Linked DNA regions of Homo sapiens: regions 1 and 3 are each linked to region 2. The links come from fine-mapping of genetic effects on gene expression. A gene starts in region 2. Each other region holds a variant in brackets. All regions are shown on one strand. Distances are from middle to middle. Region 1 holds the start of LOC124904742 (a long non-coding RNA gene). Region 2 holds the start of ATF5 (activating transcription factor 5). Region 3 overlaps NUP62 (nucleoporin 62).

Region 1 (5,219 bases), 130 kb before region 2:
TGCTCTTCCCCGCCAGATCGTCTCCTCTGCCTCCACCGACCTCCAGGACTACACCTACTACTTCGTCCCAGCACCCTGGCTCTCGGTGAAGCTCCTGCGGCTGCTGCAGTGCTACCCGCCTCCAGGTAATGAACGCCGTGCACTCCCCAACCCGGGGTGGCCTGCTGCTGGCATCTGGGGGCCTCCTGCTCCACGGCGCACCAGGTGGGACTGGAGGGTCTGGGTCAGGATTTCTCTGAAGCTGGGGCGGTTCCTCTGTCCCCTTACGTGGCTGCACTCGGGGAGGCAAGCAGGCAGCCCGAGGCCCAGCGCCTACCCTGTGCAGCATCGTGGATCAGCCTCATAGCTGAGGTCCCTGCTACCCGGGCTCTCACTCCAGCCCTGTTGCGAGGGACTGTTAACTGTGCCTGTTTTATAGATGAGGAATCTGAGGCTTGGAGAGGGAGCTCCTGGCCCAGCGTCACTCACCCGGTCAGTGGGTGATTCCAGGCCGTGCTACCTGAATTACCATAGCCCTGTCAGGGGTTTTCACATCTGTTGGGAACCTTCCCCTACTGCTCACAGTCACAATAGCCAGTGTGTATGAAACTCCTGTAGTGAGCCAGGCACTGGGCAGGGGGCACCTGCACCTGCCGAACAGAGCTGGCAAGGAGGAACAGCCAGTGTGATATGCACACAGGGAAACTGAGGCTTGGAGGTGAGACATCACCATTCTAGGCAGTAAGTGGCAGTTGGCCCCCAGACTCTCTGCTCTAAACCCCTCCCTCTGCCACTGAGCTCCCCCGAGCTTCTGTCGCCTTGGCTGACTGACCTCATGGAGCAGTTTCTTCGGACCCTGTGCTGAGGGGCTTGGCACACAGTAGGTGCTAATGCACCAGTTCCCTCCATTCAGCCAGCATGTCCAGCACCTGCCAGGGGCCAGGGCTGATGTACACCACCAAATCTCTGGGTGTGCATGCCTGTCTGTGTGCATGCCTGCATGCGTGCATGCGTTCGCCTGTGTGTGTCGATACCTGCCCGTGTGCATGCATGTCTGCGTGCATCCCCTGTGTGTGGATGTGTCATTGTGTGTGCATCTGTATGTATGCGTGTCTGTGTCTATATGTGGCAGTGTTCATGGTATCTCTGTGTCCCTCTATGTGTGTACATGTGTATATATCAGTGTGTGCATCTACATGTGTACCTGTGCATGCAAGTGGATGTGTACATGAGTGTAGATACCTGTGTGCATGCCTGTGTGTGCGTGTCTCAATGCTTGCCAGCATCTACGTGTGTCCATGCATGTCCCTCTGCACATGGTGTGTGTGTACACACTCTGAGTATACGATATGGAGGTGACACCAGAGGCCCATCGTGTGTGAAGCCAGTGATGAATTCTGTTGTGTGGCCCTGGGGACATGTCTTCCTTCTCTGGGCCTCTTTTTCGTCCTGTCAAGAAGGGCTTAAGTCATGCTCTAAGCCCATGACCACCCCAGAAGGCCCAGCTGGTAATTCTGGGGTACACCCATTGCAGGCACCTCACCCACTCCAACCCTCGGTGGTGTAGGAACTGGAGACACAGCCTTGTCCTGAGGCTGGGCCTGAGGACACACCAACCCTGTGTCACCTCCTTTTCAGCAAATGGTGGTGGGCTATTGCCAATTTGTTTGCAAGTCATTTTTTTGTCATATGCATTATGAAAAGTTTCCCAGCATCCAGATAAGTACAGAGATTTCATTACTTGGACTTCACATTTTGCCATGTATGCATGCTCTTGTTTATTTTCTTCTGAAATATTTAAAAGTAAATTACAGACATCATGATGTTTTGCCTTTAAATATGTTGTTCTGGGCCAGGCACAGTGGCTCACGCCTGTAATCCCAGCAATCTGGGAGGCCGAGGTAGAAGGATCACTTGAGCTCAGGAATTCGAGACCAGTCTGGCCAACATGGCAAAACCCCATCTCTACAAAAAATACAAAAAATTAGCCAGGTGTGGTGGTGCATGCCTGTAGTCCCAGCTACTCAGGAGGCTGAGATGGGAAGATCGCTTGAACCCGGGAGGTGGAGGTTGCAGTGAGCCAAGATTGTGCCACTGCACTCCAGCTTGGGTGACAGAGTGAGACTCTGTCTCAAAAAAAAATAAAAAAATAAAAAAACAGAATATATATCACAGTACAATCTAGGATCACATATTCAATCGGATTCTGCCAGGCTCAGTGGCTAACACTGTCATCCCAGCACTTTGGGAGGCTGAGG[CAGA/C]AGGATCGCTTGAGCCCAGGAGTTTGAGATCAGACTGGACAACATAGTTGCCCTGTTTCCAAAAAATAGGATTTAAATTGGATTCTGTCTTTGTTATTTCTCGTAGTCTGGACTAGCCCCCCTACACCTGTTTATGGAGAAACCAGGAGATGCCATTGCTGTGTGTCCCATGGTGGCGACTGGGCTCATTGCTGCCTTGTGGTGTATTTTAGCTTGTTCCTCTATCTGGTGAATTTTCCTGCGGAAAATTCTGCAGAAAAATCTGCGGAACCATTTTTTGCTGGAACGCTTGACAGCTCTTGCATACACTTGAAAACACGTCACATTCTAGGAAACGTGGTGATTGGTGCTCCTGTGAGCTGCTGGCTGGCATCTGTCAGTGGTGGAGAGCTCTGGGGGGTGAGGGGGCACCTGGTTGAGCCTTGTCTCCTTTGGCCTCCCAGCCTCTAGGCCAGGAGGATGGCACCGAGTGTGCCTGCAGTGGCCTCTTGCTGAATGGACACTTGGGTGGGTGGCTTGTGCATTTTTGTCAGGGGCTGCTCAGCACTCACACCAGTCCTTGGGAAGGCCTGGGTTTGGGGGCACCTCTGGGGAAGGTTCCTGGAGCTTCCTTTGCTCTGTGAGAAACCTAAGGAGCCTCAGAGCTGCAGATGAGGAAACTGAGGCTCACATGGTGCCACCTCTTGCCCGAGAGGGTCAGAGCAGGAGGAGAGCCCAGGTCTGGGGATAGATCTTGTGTCTCCAGAGGTGCCTTGTCTCACCATCTCTGCTGGGCTGGGAAGAGGTTGAGGGAGCAGAGACCCTGGCCCTGAGCTGCAGAATTCTCGAGTGTCAGAGGCACCCCGAGCTCCTCCTTTGGAAGACAGGAGCTGGGGCATGGCCACCACCCCAGCAGGTGTGCCAGGTGGGCAGGACACTCAGCCGGGGGCGTCCCCTTCGTTTCCCCAGAGGATGCGGCTGTGAAGGGGCGGCTGGTGGAATGTCTGGAGACTGTGCTCAACAAGGCCCAGGAGCCCCCCAAATCCAAGAAGGTGCAGCATTCCAACGCCAAGAACGCCATCCTCTTCGAGACCATCAGCCTCATCATCCACTATGACAGGTGCCCGCCTGGGCCTATCAGGGCCTGATGCCTGGGGCCAGGAAAGAGGGGCATGGAGGCCCGGACTCCTGAGTCCTAGGCAGAGGGCAGGGAATCTTGACTTTTAGGTAGGGTAGGAGGAGGATGGGGCTGTGAAGTGTCACCTGTGAGGTTGGTGCTGGGGCCCTTCCTGGGGGCAGAATTGCTAGGTATCTTTCTCTGGGCTCAAAGGCCCAGTTGTCTGGGTCACTGGAGGTGCAGTACTGCGATGCAAGGCCGGCAAGGTTAAGACCTGGATCCTTGGGGGCTGTGAGATGGGTCAGCTGGGGCCCGAGTCCTCCACCTTCTCCTGTCAGTTTCTCTCACCATCCCTCTCTTGTGGCCCCTGCTGGCAGTGAGCCCAACCTCCTGGTTCGGGCCTGCAACCAGCTGGGCCAGTTCCTGCAGCACCGGGAGACCAACCTGCGCTACCTGGCCCTGGAGAGCATGTGCACGCTGGCCAGCTCCGAGTTCTCCCATGAAGCCGTCAAGACGCACATTGACACCGTCATCAATGCCCTCAAGGTGTGAGCCCTTGGAGCCCACCCCGGGCCTGCCACCCCCCTCAGAAAGACCAGAGGCTCAGAGGCCCTTGGGTGGCCAACCCTGTGCCAACAGGGAGTCTAAAACACACCTGGGCTCTGCTCTCCGCCCTCAGACGGAGCGGGACGTCAGCGTGCGGCAGCGGGCGGCTGACCTCCTCTACGCCATGTGTGACCGGAGCAATGCCAAGCAGATCGTGTCGGAGATGCTGCGGTACCTGGAGACGGCAGACTACGCCATCCGCGAGGAGATCGTGAGTGCTGTGGGGTGCGGGCTGGACTCTTGGGTCTGAGGCAGGAGGTGGCTGGGGGCCTGGATTCCTAAGTCTAAGGGAGGAGGGGCTGGGGCCTGGACTCCTGGGTCTCCAGATGGGGGCAGTGGTGAGCCCAGATCCAGGTGAGTGAAAGCCCGACATGGCCTGCGGCACACTCTCTCTCACACGCCCCGGCGGCAGGTCCTGAAGGTGGCCATCCTGGCCGAGAAGTACGCCGTGGACTACAGCTGGTACGTGGACACCATCCTCAACCTCATCCGCATTGCGGGCGACTACGTGAGTGAGGAGGTGTGGTACCGTGTGCTACAGATCGTCACCAACCGTGATGACGTCCAGGGCTATGCCGCCAAGACCGTCTTTGAGGTCAGCATCCCTGACCCTGACCCTATGACCCCACGACAGGACCTAGAGGCAGAGCAAGGATGGCCGGGGCCGTGGCGCCTGCCAGCCCGCAGCCACCCTCCTTCTCCTGCACTGCCGTGACCTCAAAATGGGGCCTCTGCCTCTCTGGGCCAACCCAGGGGACCCAGGGCTATGGTCTCATGGGCCTGATGTGAGGAGTCCCCAGGGCATGGGCATGGGGCACCCAGTGTGCAGTCCTGGCCCCCGGATCTCGGTAGTTTCCCTCTGCCCCAGGAAAGGGGCCCCACACAGTCCTGTTTTTTGTTTGTTTGTTTGTTTGTTTCTGGAGACGGAGTCTCACTCTGTTGCCCAGGCTGGAGTGGGGAGTGAGTGCCGTGGTGCGATCTCGGCTCACTGCAACCTCGGCCTCCCAGCGTCAAGCCATTCTCCTGCCTCAGCCTCCCCAGTAGCTGGTACTACAGGCACGCGCCACCACACCCAGCTAATTTGTTTGTATTTTTAGTAGAGACGGGGTTTCACCATGTTACCCAGGCTGGTTTGAAACTCCTGAGCTCAGGCAATCTGCCCGCCTCGGCCTCCCAAAGTACCAGGATTACAGGCATGAGCCACTGCTTCCGGCCCACAGCCCTGTTTTACTTCCTGTGTGAGCTTGGGCCCGTCACTCAACCTTTCTGTGACTCAG
Region 2 (5,219 bases):
TGCCCACCTCAGCCTCCCAGGGTGGTGGGACTACAGGCATGAGCCACCGTGCCTGGTCCAGAGGTAGGTATTCTTAATGCCACTTCGTACCACAGGGGAAACTGAGGCACAGGGAAGGGAAATGGCCAGGGTCACACAGCTAGTAAGAGGGGTGCAGTCAAGTTTTGAACTCATATAATCTGGCTCCAGAGTCTATGCCAGGTATGTATAAAATTTGGCTTCCTGGGGCCACATTGAAGAATTGTCTTAGGCCACACATAACATACACTATTGATAGCTGATGAACTTAAAAAAAAATCGCAAAAAATTCGCATGTTTTGGTAAGGTTTACAAATTTGTGTTAGGCTGCATTCAAAGCTGTTCTAGGCCGCATGCAGGCCCACGGGTGGGACAAGCTCAGTCTATGCTCTTAGCTGCTACTCTGTATACTGCCTCAGTGATAACACAGCCCCTATAGGCCCAAGAAAATATAGGGCAAGTGCTCAAAAACTGGCAGAGTGGACAGTAAGTGCTCTAAGGGAAGGTGGTCAGATCCCAAGAAGGACTTCCTGCCCGCAACAGGTAAGGAAGGAGAAAGAAGCTTGTGTGTACCGCTCAGTATCAGGATTCCTCCACCTTCTCTGGACCTTGATTCAGTCTCCTAACTGCCACAGAAGGGATGAAGGTTGAACTCCAGCTGGGATGTCCTGATGTGGATGGGACAAGGTGGGTTTCTGCAACAGAGAAAAGACGGACATCCACCTCGGCTGGTGGAGGAGGGCCCAGTGCATGAGAAGGGGCAAGATGGCTACCCTGTGACTAAACGAAAACGGAGATCTTCCATTTTTGGCAGGGTTGGGAGATAGTTCCTATCCAGTGGAAGCTGAAGGACGGTTTGAAAGGAAGCCAAGGGCAAGGGATGGAGAAAAGGACGCAGCTGGGGCCTCGATGTCTGAATCCCTGCCAGGGGATGGGGCCTGGGCACCCATCATTTGGAATGGAAGATGAGGATAGCTGGAAACAGACACTTTAGAGGGATGAGGGAGACAGAAGAATGACAGCAGGTGTTGGACAGTCCAACGTCTGCGGCTCTTACAAGTGGTAAGGAAGAAATGAGACTGGGCCCCAGAGTTCCTATTAATAAAATATGCTGAGGCCGGGAGCGATGGCTCACGCCTGTAATCCCAGCACTTTGGGAGGCCGAGGCGGGCGGATCACGAGGCCAGGAAATTGAGACCATCCTGGCTAACACAGTGAAACCCCGTCTCTACTAAAAATACAAAAAATTAGCCGGGCGTGGTGGCGGGCGCCTGTAGTCCCAGCTACTCGGGAGGCTGAGGCAGGAGAATGGCGTGAACCTGGGAGGCGGAGTTTGCAGTGAGCCGAGATCGCGCCACTGCACTCCAGCCTGGGCGACAGAGACGGAGAGACTCCGTCTCAAAAAAAAAAAACAGTTGAACAGGAATGTATGAGTTGAGCTCTGTGCATAAGGCTTGCCAGACATCGTCTTATTTGAGTCTCATAAACCCACCAGGCGAGTTGATTTTTCTTATTTTACAGATAGGGAAATGAAGTAAGAGAACTTAAGTTATTTGCCCGAGGCCATCCTGGCAGGTCTGTATTTGGGAGAGTGCTGTGACTCATGCTGGACTCTAACCCACGAGGGTTTCTCAGAGTCAGCAGCTGGGGGATGAAGAAGTGAAAAGTGACTGGCAGGAAATTCTGCAAGCAAGGAAAGGGAAAGAGAAATGAACTGGTGCAGGTCTGCGGGAAGAGAATGAGGCTGGATCCTCAAAATCACAGGAGGAAGCAGGCCCAGACCTCAGAGGCAGAAAGAGAAAGAAACCAGAGCTTAGAGTCAGGAGGAGGAAACCAGACCCCGGAGCCACAAGGAGAGGGCTGGATCCCCGGCTCAGAGGGAAGAGGTCGGATCCCCAGCTGAGAGGGAGGAGGGTCCCGGACCCTAGGAGTGGGAAGGAAAGGCTCGGATCCCCTGATCCCCAGGAGGAGGGGACCCGGCTGCCTCCCGGTTGGGGCCGCGCGAGGGCGGGGCGCGGAAGGATCCGGGAGGGCCGTGCTCCGCCACCCAGTATATATCTGTCCCCAGTCCCCGGGGCCGCCTCATTCCCTGTCCTCGGATCACAGTCTCTTCTCACTACAGTGTCGCCGCCTCTGCCTGCGTAGCCCCGGCCATGGCTCTGTAGCCTCGACCCCTTTGTGCCCCCGGCCCGTCTCCGCGCTCACCACGCCTGCGCTCTCCGCTCCCACCTTCTTTCTTCAGCCGAGGCCGCCGCCGCCTCTCCTTGCTGCAGCCATGGAGTGAGTAACCGCTTACCTCTTCTCCAACTGCCTTTCCCGCCCTTTCGCAGCTCGTGGCCCTCTTTAGGGAGCCCTGGGGGGTGGGGAGTCGCGAGCGGGGAATCACGGTCGCGCAGGCGCAGAAGTAGTACGGTGGGCCGAAGGCGCGCGGCTGCGCATGCGCACTGGGCCCGGGGCCGGGTGGGAGAGTTCTAGACTCGATGTTTGTCAGCCCGCGTGCAGCTGGGCCTGAGCACTCCAGGGGAGGGTGTGTTTTTTTTTTTTCTAAACGATTCTTCGTGCTTGGTTGTTCCTGCGCAGTAGCCCACCAGTGCCCCGTAGTGAAAGAGCTGCGGACCCTGAATGGCCGCACATGCGCATTGATCCCCAAGAGGGCGGAGGTGTAAAGGCAATTGGACCGCTCGGGCGACGTAGCATGCGCCTTGGCCCTCGGCGCAGAGCCGCGTGTGGACGGGTGGCGTTCGGGTAGCCGTTCTCCGCGTGCCCCCTCTACCCTCCTCCACCCTCCCTGCCCCACGTTGCTCTGGCTCACAGCCCAGCTTCCTTCCTTTTAAACCAGGCACCTGCTGAGGCGGGGACTGGCTTAGATTGACAGGGCAGAAGGCGGGACCCAGAGGCAACCCTCTAAGTGGGTGGGGATAGAACCACTGTCGTCACGATGGGTGGGATTTCGGAAGCACATTGTGAGAAGGGGCGGGGCTAAACCAACCGTTAGTTGAGGGGTGGGGTTTCGATGTGACAAAGAGGCGGGGCCTCTGGGGAATCGGGGGAGGGGCGGAGCTAAATAAACAATGAGGGGCGGGGCTTGGAGGGGCAGCGGCAGAGCGAGGAGTGGGATTTGAGTGGATAACATTGCTGAAGGGCTGCGGCCTGGGGCAGTTCCCCTGGGAACTGGTTTGGGATGGAAGCTAGGAAGGCAGTGGGGCCAAAAGGAAATATTTTAGAGGAAGGGGCGTGGCTGGAAGAAAATGTCCCTGGGATTGAGTTTTTCCTTGAGGCGAAATATTCTGAGGTGGATGGGAGGGGCCTAAGGTAATTCCCCTGGGAGACCTTTAGGTTTTTTTTTTCTGTATTGGGGGAAGGGGTGGGGCATCGGTCCTACTTTAGGACCTAAAGAAATTCCCTTGGGAGTGGGTGGGGCTCAGAGATTTGGGTAAAGAAAGGGCAAATTTAGAATTCGGAGAGGCTGAGGCTTAGTGTTCTAAACGGTGGTTGGAAGGGGGAGGGAGGAGCCTCATGGACGTGCCTGGGGGTGTGGCTTGGCTTCCCCTTGATTTTGGCCGGTGGATGACGCTGTCCTGACCACACCCACTCTTGTCTCACGCGTGTAGGTCTTCCACTTTCGCCTTGGTGCCTGTCTTCGCCCACCTGAGCATCCTCCAGAGCCTCGTGCCAGCTGCTGGTGCAGCCTCTCCTGTTGCCATCAGTGCCCAGCACCTGTGCTACAGCCATGTCACTCCTGGCGACCCTGGGGCTGGAGCTGGACAGGGCCCTGCTCCCAGCTAGTGGGCTGGGATGGCTCGTAGACTATGGGAAACTCCCCCCGGCCCCTGCCCCCCTGGCTCCCTATGAGGTCCTTGGGGGAGCCCTGGAGGGCGGGCTTCCAGTGGGGGGAGAGCCCCTGGCAGGTAAGGGCAGGTGGAAGGTGGAGCTGGGGAGTGGAGGGCAGGGGAAGATGGGGGAGGAAGAACTCATCCATGTATTCAATAAATATTGAGTGCCTACAATGTGCCAGGCACTGTTTTAGGTGCTGAGGATACGGCTGGGAACAAGAAGAACATGGTCTGTGCCTTCCAGCAGCTCACACTGTGGGGAGTAGACCAGAGATAAATTAAATGAGAGTGTATTGGAATAAGTCAAAAACACCTAGCAGCTGAGCTACAAAATGACAAAGGGGACCTAATATAGAATGGGTAGCCAGAAAACCTTCTCCAAGTAGGTAACATGTTGACTGAGGCATAAATGATGGGAAGGAAGCCAGGCATGATGGCCTGTAATCCCAGCACTTTGGGAGGCCAAGCGGGGAGAATTGCTTTAGTCCAGGAGTTCAGGACGTGGGCAACATAGCGAGACCTCATATCTATAGGAAAAAAAAAATTAGCCAGGCATGGTGGCTCACGCTTGTAGTCACAGCTACTTGGGAGGCTGAGGTGGGAGGATCGCTTGAGCCTGGGAGGTCTAGGCTGCAGTGAGCCAAGATGATGCCACTGCACTGCAGCCTGGGCAACAGAGTGAAACCCTATCCCTTAAAATAAAAAAAAAGTAGGGAAGGAATGAGGAAAACACCCAAGGGAAGAGCATTTTAGTTGGAGGGAACTGTATATGCAGAAGCCCTCAGGAGGCAGGAATCATTTCATTCATTACTGTATCCCAAATGCTTGGCACATAGTGGGTTTTCAATAATTAATGAGTAAAGATGAAACAAGGCATATGTGCGTGTGTATCTGTGTGTGTAATGTGATCTAGTTTGCCTTTTAAAAAGAGAGAATAGAGACACCACAGATACAGAGTACTCGGTAAAGGAGATGTTGGAATGGTTGAAGAAATGCTTGGTTGACTGTTGCTTGAGTCATTGGTTGGTTGGCTGGTTCTTTTTTTCTTTTTTAATTTTTTTTTTCTCCTGGACCCTCTTATGGGTTAAGACTGATTCTTTCATTGGCTAATTTGTTGGGTTTTGGTTAACTGGTTCATTGGTTGATTAATGGGTTGATTGGTTGGTTGACTGATTTATTTGGTTGGTTGACCGATTCCCTGATTGATTGGTCGACTAGTTCATTGGTTGGTTGGTTGGTTGGTTGGTTGACTGGGTGGTTAGATGGTTGATTGTTGGTTGGTTCGTTGACTGGTTTATTGGTTTCTTCACTGGTTTGTTGGTTTATTGACTGGTTTGATGATTCAGTGGTTAGTTGTTTTACTGAATG
Region 3 (5,219 bases), 24 kb before region 2:
CAGGCTAGTCCCCATCACGGCAGCGCACCCGGTCTGCTTCTTGCCTCGGGAAACCTTTGGCGTCTGAGAGGGTTCAACCTGATGGTGTCTGGAGGGGAGACGGGACAAGGGCGCCCATGTGGGTCACTGTGTTTGAAGTCACCAGGGCCCTGGTGTGCAGAAGCCAAGGGTGTGGTCCTGTGGGACAGGCAGGGGAACAGCCGGGGTCACTGAAACCTGGCTGGGGGGCTGGCTGCTGTGCAAGAAGCAGACCTCGCTTCCGAGCGTGAGGGCTTTGCTCCCTGGGAGGTTCTGTGGAGAGCCGCTGCCCTGAGTCTGAGGGGCAGATTTTTAAAGCACCCTGACATTTTTGGGGTTTACTGAAAACTTGGGAGCAGTGGTGTGCTGAAGCTGAGTCATACCAGGTCATAAGAGCTGATTTACATTTTCAGGAGTTTTTGCTTTGCAAGCCACTCATTACTAAAAAATAAATTGTATTGATGATTAGTTTTTACTAAAAAAGAATAAAAAGTCATCATTCCCTCATGGTTTGACTACATATTATACTGTTATATGTGCTGGGTTTTTTTTTTTTTTTTTTTTTTTTTTGAGACAGGGTCTCACTTTTGTTACCCAGGCTGGAGTGCAGTGGTACGATCTCGGCTCACTGCAATGTCTGCCTCCCAGGTTCATGTGATCCTCCCACCTCAGCCTCCAAGTATCTGAAACTACAGGCAGGAGCCACTACGCCAGGCTAATTTTTGTATTTTTGTAGAGACGAGGTTTCGCCATGTTGCCCAGGCTGGTCTCAAACTCCAGACCCCAAGTAATCTACTCCCCTTGGCCTCCCCAAAATGTCGGGATTACAGGCATGAGCCACCACACCCAGCCCCCATTTGCCACTCTTATCCCTAAACAGGGGAAAGCAAAGCAGTAAGAGCTGAGATTCACCTTTAAAAGCCTCTGATTCCAAATTTAGTCACCAAATGTGTTGTCTTCATATGAATTAATGAGGAACTTAAGGAAAGGCCATTTGTCAGGACTGGGAAGGAAGCACATCTGTGTATTTTCTTCCTGGAAAGGGAAACTGAAATTACGATGGAGCCATCACCCGCGGTGGCACCCAGTCGGTTGCTGATGCTGCTGCGATCTCGGGATCCCTCCTAGACTCCCCCAGGAGGCCTGTTGGGACCATTTCTCACATGGCTTTGGGGCACAGAGCCTCCTGATTTAATGGAATCACTTGTGTTATTCAGAGTGGGGTGCTCAAGATCCTTTGGGGTATGGGAAGAAAATGCAGAACTTAAAATTTTTTTTTTGAGATGAAGTCTAACTTTGTTGCCCAGGCTGGAGTGCAGTGGCGCGATCTTGGCTCACTGCAACCTCCGCCTCCCAGGTTCAAGTGATTCTCCTGAGTACCTGGGAGTTACAGGCACCCACCACCACGCCGGGCTAATTTTTGTATTATTTATTTACTTATTTGAGACGGAGTCACTCTTTTGCCCAGGCTGGAGTGCAGTGGCTTGATCTCTGCTCACTGTAAGCTCCGCCTCCCGGGTTCATGCCATTCTCCTGCCTCAGTCTCCCGAGTAGCTGGGACTATAGGCGCCTGCCACCACACCCGGCTAATTTTTTTATATTTTTAGTAGAGACAGGGTTTCACCGTGTTAGCCAGGATGGTCTCGATCTCCTAACCTCGTGATCCGCCCACCTTGGCCTCCCAAAGGGCTGGGATTACAGGCATGAGCCACCGTGCCCAGCCCCTAATTTTTGTATTTTTAGAAGATACGGGGTTTCACCATGTTGGCCAGGCTGGTCTCAAACTCCTGACCTCAGGTGATCCACCCGCCTCGGCCTCCCAAAGCTGGAATTTATTTTAAAAATATAACTATAAGAAAGCAATTAAGCTTTGCTAATGGTTAATATACAAAATAGGAAATAATATGCAAAATAATAGGAAAAATATACATGTACACTTTGGAAATACATGCTCAAATTTTCTCATCATGATTGTGTGGCCCCTGCCAACGACCTTGTGGGCATTTTTTGGTACCTCCAGCACCAGATCAGGATCAGCTCTAAAAATGGATGCTGAACGCACAAATGTAGGTAAAATGCAAACTGCTTCCTACCTCCTAAGGGGACTCAAGGCCTCCCTTCCGGCAGAGGGGACAATATGAGTCAAGGCCTATGAACTGCAGGAAAAGGTCCCTGCTGTAGGTGACAGCTTTCAGAGAGAAGTAGCTGGGTTGTGGGGTCTTCCTCTGGTTTACTGCTCCCACCACACACACCCATGGTTTCTACTTAGACACAACTCTTGTCCTCCAGAGCCCAAGATGGTGCAAGGAAATTTTATTTATTTATTTGAGACGAAGTTTCGCTTTTGTTGCCTAGGCTGGAGTGCAATGGCATGATCTCGGCTCACTGCAACCTCCACCTCTCGGGTTCAAGCGATTCTCCTGCCACAGCCTCCCGAGTAGCTGGGATTACAGGCGCCCGCCACTTAACTAGCCACCAGCTCATGTTTGTATTTTTGGTAGAGATGGGATTTCTCCATGTTGGCCATGCTGGTCTCGAACTCCTGACCTCAGGTGTTCTGCCAGCCTTGGCCTCCCAAAGTGCTGGGATTACAGGTGTGAGCCACCGCACCTGGCCGGTCCAAGGAAATAATGACTCATGATCATGACTTCGGGAGACTTTTGGAACCTGGGCCATGAATCTCCCAAGTGTTGCCCACAGACTGAGATGGAACAGGCAGCAGGAGGCCAAAGGGGTACACTCCACTCCCCACAGCCCAGGAGATCTGAGTGCTTAGGACCATTCCAGTCCATAGAGCGAGGCTGGAGGGTGGAGGAAGAGCATTGGGCCCGTGTCTTTAGCCCCAGGTGACAGGAAGGAATGCTGCCCATGACATCTGTAACCACTGGAATAGCGCCTTAGGGATGGTACTAGATGACTTAACATGTGTGTATATTTTTTGAGACAGAGTCTTGCTCTGTCGCCCAGGCTGGAGTGCAGTGGTGTGATCATGGCTCACTGCAGCCTCAAAGGCCTGGGCTTAAATGATCCTTCCATCTCAGCCTCCCAGGTAGCTGGGACCACAGTTGCGTGCCACCACGCACAACCAAACTTTTTTGTAGTTT[T/A]TATAGAGACGGGGTTTCACCATGTTGCCCAGGCTGGTCTTGAATCCCTGACCTCAAGTGATCTGCCCATCTTGGCCTCCCAAAGTGCTGGGATTACAGGTGTGAGCCACCTCGCCCAGCCATATTTGTGTATATTCTACGACATAACTGTCACAAAACACCTGGAGCCCACTCCCCGTGGCGGCTTCACTCGTGTGTTCCTCTTCTACCACTAGCACCACCCCTTCCTGGAGCAAACCACGATTTGCATTTGTCTATTACTCTGTCTCATCAAACAAAAGCTGCTTCATCGCATACCCCTATGTCTATGCAAGCACTACTTCATTTGCTTGCCTGTGCGTTTCATGTGAATGGCACCCCTGCAGAGTCTCCTGGAACCTGCTCTTTTTACTCAGCTTTCTCCTCCTAACATTTATCCATATTAACAGCAGCTGTTTTGGTTTCACAATACATTTATTTAGAAAAGCAACATACAGTAATAGGTATTTCAGAGAATTCAGCAAAGTATAAAGACAAATACAAAAGATGCTTGGGATACAACCGCTAGCTTCTGCCTTCCACACACAGTGGATTTTACTGTAACTGACTAGAGTTACTCTGGTGCCACTAAGTTCCGAGCCAAGTCTACGGCCACCACTGGAAGCTGTGGCTATTTCTGTGGACTGACGTTACACTGGGCTTCATTGTTCTTTCATTTAACAAATGTGACAGGGACCGGGCTGGGGACACACGGGGAACGACAGTGGGTCTCTGCCCATGGGAACTCACAATCTAACAGCGAGACGAGGCACAAACGGCTAGCACAGGATAGCATAACAAGTGCCACCCAAGGTACAGGCTCAGGGTGCTACGGGGACCTGCAAGAAGGCCACCTGAGCTTCGGGTAGCTGGGAAGGCTTCCTGGAGGAGGTGAGGCCCAAGGTGGGGGTGAGCCTGGGCCAGGCAAAAGGCAGGCCTCTCGGCGCCCATCTGTGGTTCCTCAACACCCTGTGTGTGCAGGCCCCTCAGCTGACCTGTCTTCTGTGAAATTCTTGATCCCGCTCTGTTCTATTCACACTGTGCTGCTTTGCCTTGGTGGTTAGCATGGTTAGCTTTCACAAGCACAAGCTCACACTCGAAAACTAGGCTGCTGTCTCCTGGGAGTTTCTTTTTTTTTTTTTTTTTTTTTGAGACAGAGTCTCTGTTGCCTAGGCTGGAGTGCAGTGGTGTGATCTTGGTTCACTGCAACACCTCCTGGGTTCAAGTGATTCTCCTGCCTCAGCCTCCCGAGTAGCTGAGATTGAGATCACAGGCGTCCACCACACCTGACTAATTTTTGTATTTTTAGTAGAGACGGGGTTTCACCATGTTGGCCAGGCTGGTCTCGAACTCCTGACCTCAAGTCATCTGCCCGCCTTGGCCACCCAAAGTGCTGAGATTACAGGGGTGAGCCACTGCGCCCTGACTTGGAGGTTCTCTTACATTTGGTATTTTTTCATGACACCTATGACTATGCTTTGGAGAGAGTGGCTGCCCCCACGACCCTGGCTGGGACCAAGACCATCAGCACTTCTCCATCACCAGGCTGAGCCAGGATGAGGTGGGTGGTCGCAGTAGGTGAAAAGGGGCCAAAGATACTCAAATGAAAGCCACAGAAGCCACACCCATGAGGCTGCTGCCTGGGCAGAAGGCCCAGAATACCCTCCTAAATGGAAAAACGCAAAGCACACAGCGATCATGTCAAGGGCAGTCATGTGAAAGAAAGAAACAAACAAACAAGTATCTTGCCACAACCCCAAACTACAGACAACAGGGCGCATTCCCCTCATGAACTCCCTAGGGACCTGCGGGCCCCAGGGCTGCTGTCGCTCAGTCAAAGGTGATCCGGAAGCTGCGCTCCTGCTCCTTGCGCCGGCCCTCGCACACCTTGGTCACCTCCTCCACCTTCCTCTGCAGCAGGGCCGAGTTCTGGTCGATCCACTGCAGTGAGTCCATGTGCGCATTGAGGATCTTGCAGATCTGCTGCAGTGGGTCACTGGTGTCGGCGGGGGCCCCGGACGTGTTCAGGTGCTCGATGATGTCCTTGAGATCCTGGGCCATGCGCTTGAGCTGTGCATC

What was found. PIP is the estimated chance that this variant, and not a neighbour inherited with it, causes the effect.
Region 1: its variant is the best candidate, but not a certain one, in a credible set for the expression of ATF5 in aorta (GTEx, PIP 0.53).
Region 3: its variant is the best candidate, but not a certain one, in a credible set for the expression of ATF5 in whole blood (TOPMed, PIP 0.63).

What each region holds. Positions count from the first base shown.
Region 1 is chr19:49,795,614-49,800,832 of GRCh38, forward strand. AP2A1 (adaptor related protein complex 2 subunit alpha 1) reads left to right here. Exons shown (of 23, transcript NM_130787.3): 7 at 17-125; 8 at 3,189-3,339; 9 at 3,714-3,882; 10 at 4,016-4,153; 11 at 4,355-4,537. LOC124904742 (a long non-coding RNA gene) reads right to left here and starts at 4,537. Exons shown (of 2, transcript XR_007067290.1): 1 at 3,992-4,537; 2 at 1,733-1,944. RefSeq lists an enhancer at 4,611-5,111. The variant CAGA/C (reference allele first, on the strand shown) is at 2,238.
Region 2 is chr19:49,927,103-49,932,321 of GRCh38, forward strand. ATF5 (activating transcription factor 5) reads left to right here and starts at 2,103. Exons shown (of 3, transcript NM_001193646.2): 1 at 2,103-2,298; 2 at 3,630-3,926. The coding sequence starts at 3,749. NUP62 (nucleoporin 62) reads right to left here and starts at 2,402. Exons shown (of 3, transcript NM_016553.5): 1 at 2,224-2,402; 2 at 592-713. It also overlaps a transcript of IL4I1 not described here. RefSeq lists silencers at 1,933-1,992, 2,843-2,892.
Region 3 is chr19:49,903,269-49,908,487 of GRCh38, forward strand. NUP62 (nucleoporin 62) reads right to left here. Exons shown (of 3, transcript NM_016553.5): 3 at 3,557-5,219. The coding sequence ends at 4,971. It also overlaps a transcript of IL4I1 not described here. Among named protein-coding and RNA genes, the nearest start is that of IL4I1, 9.0 kb to the left of the region's middle. RefSeq lists enhancers at 3,887-4,006, 4,648-5,219. The variant T/A (reference allele first, on the strand shown) is at 3,123.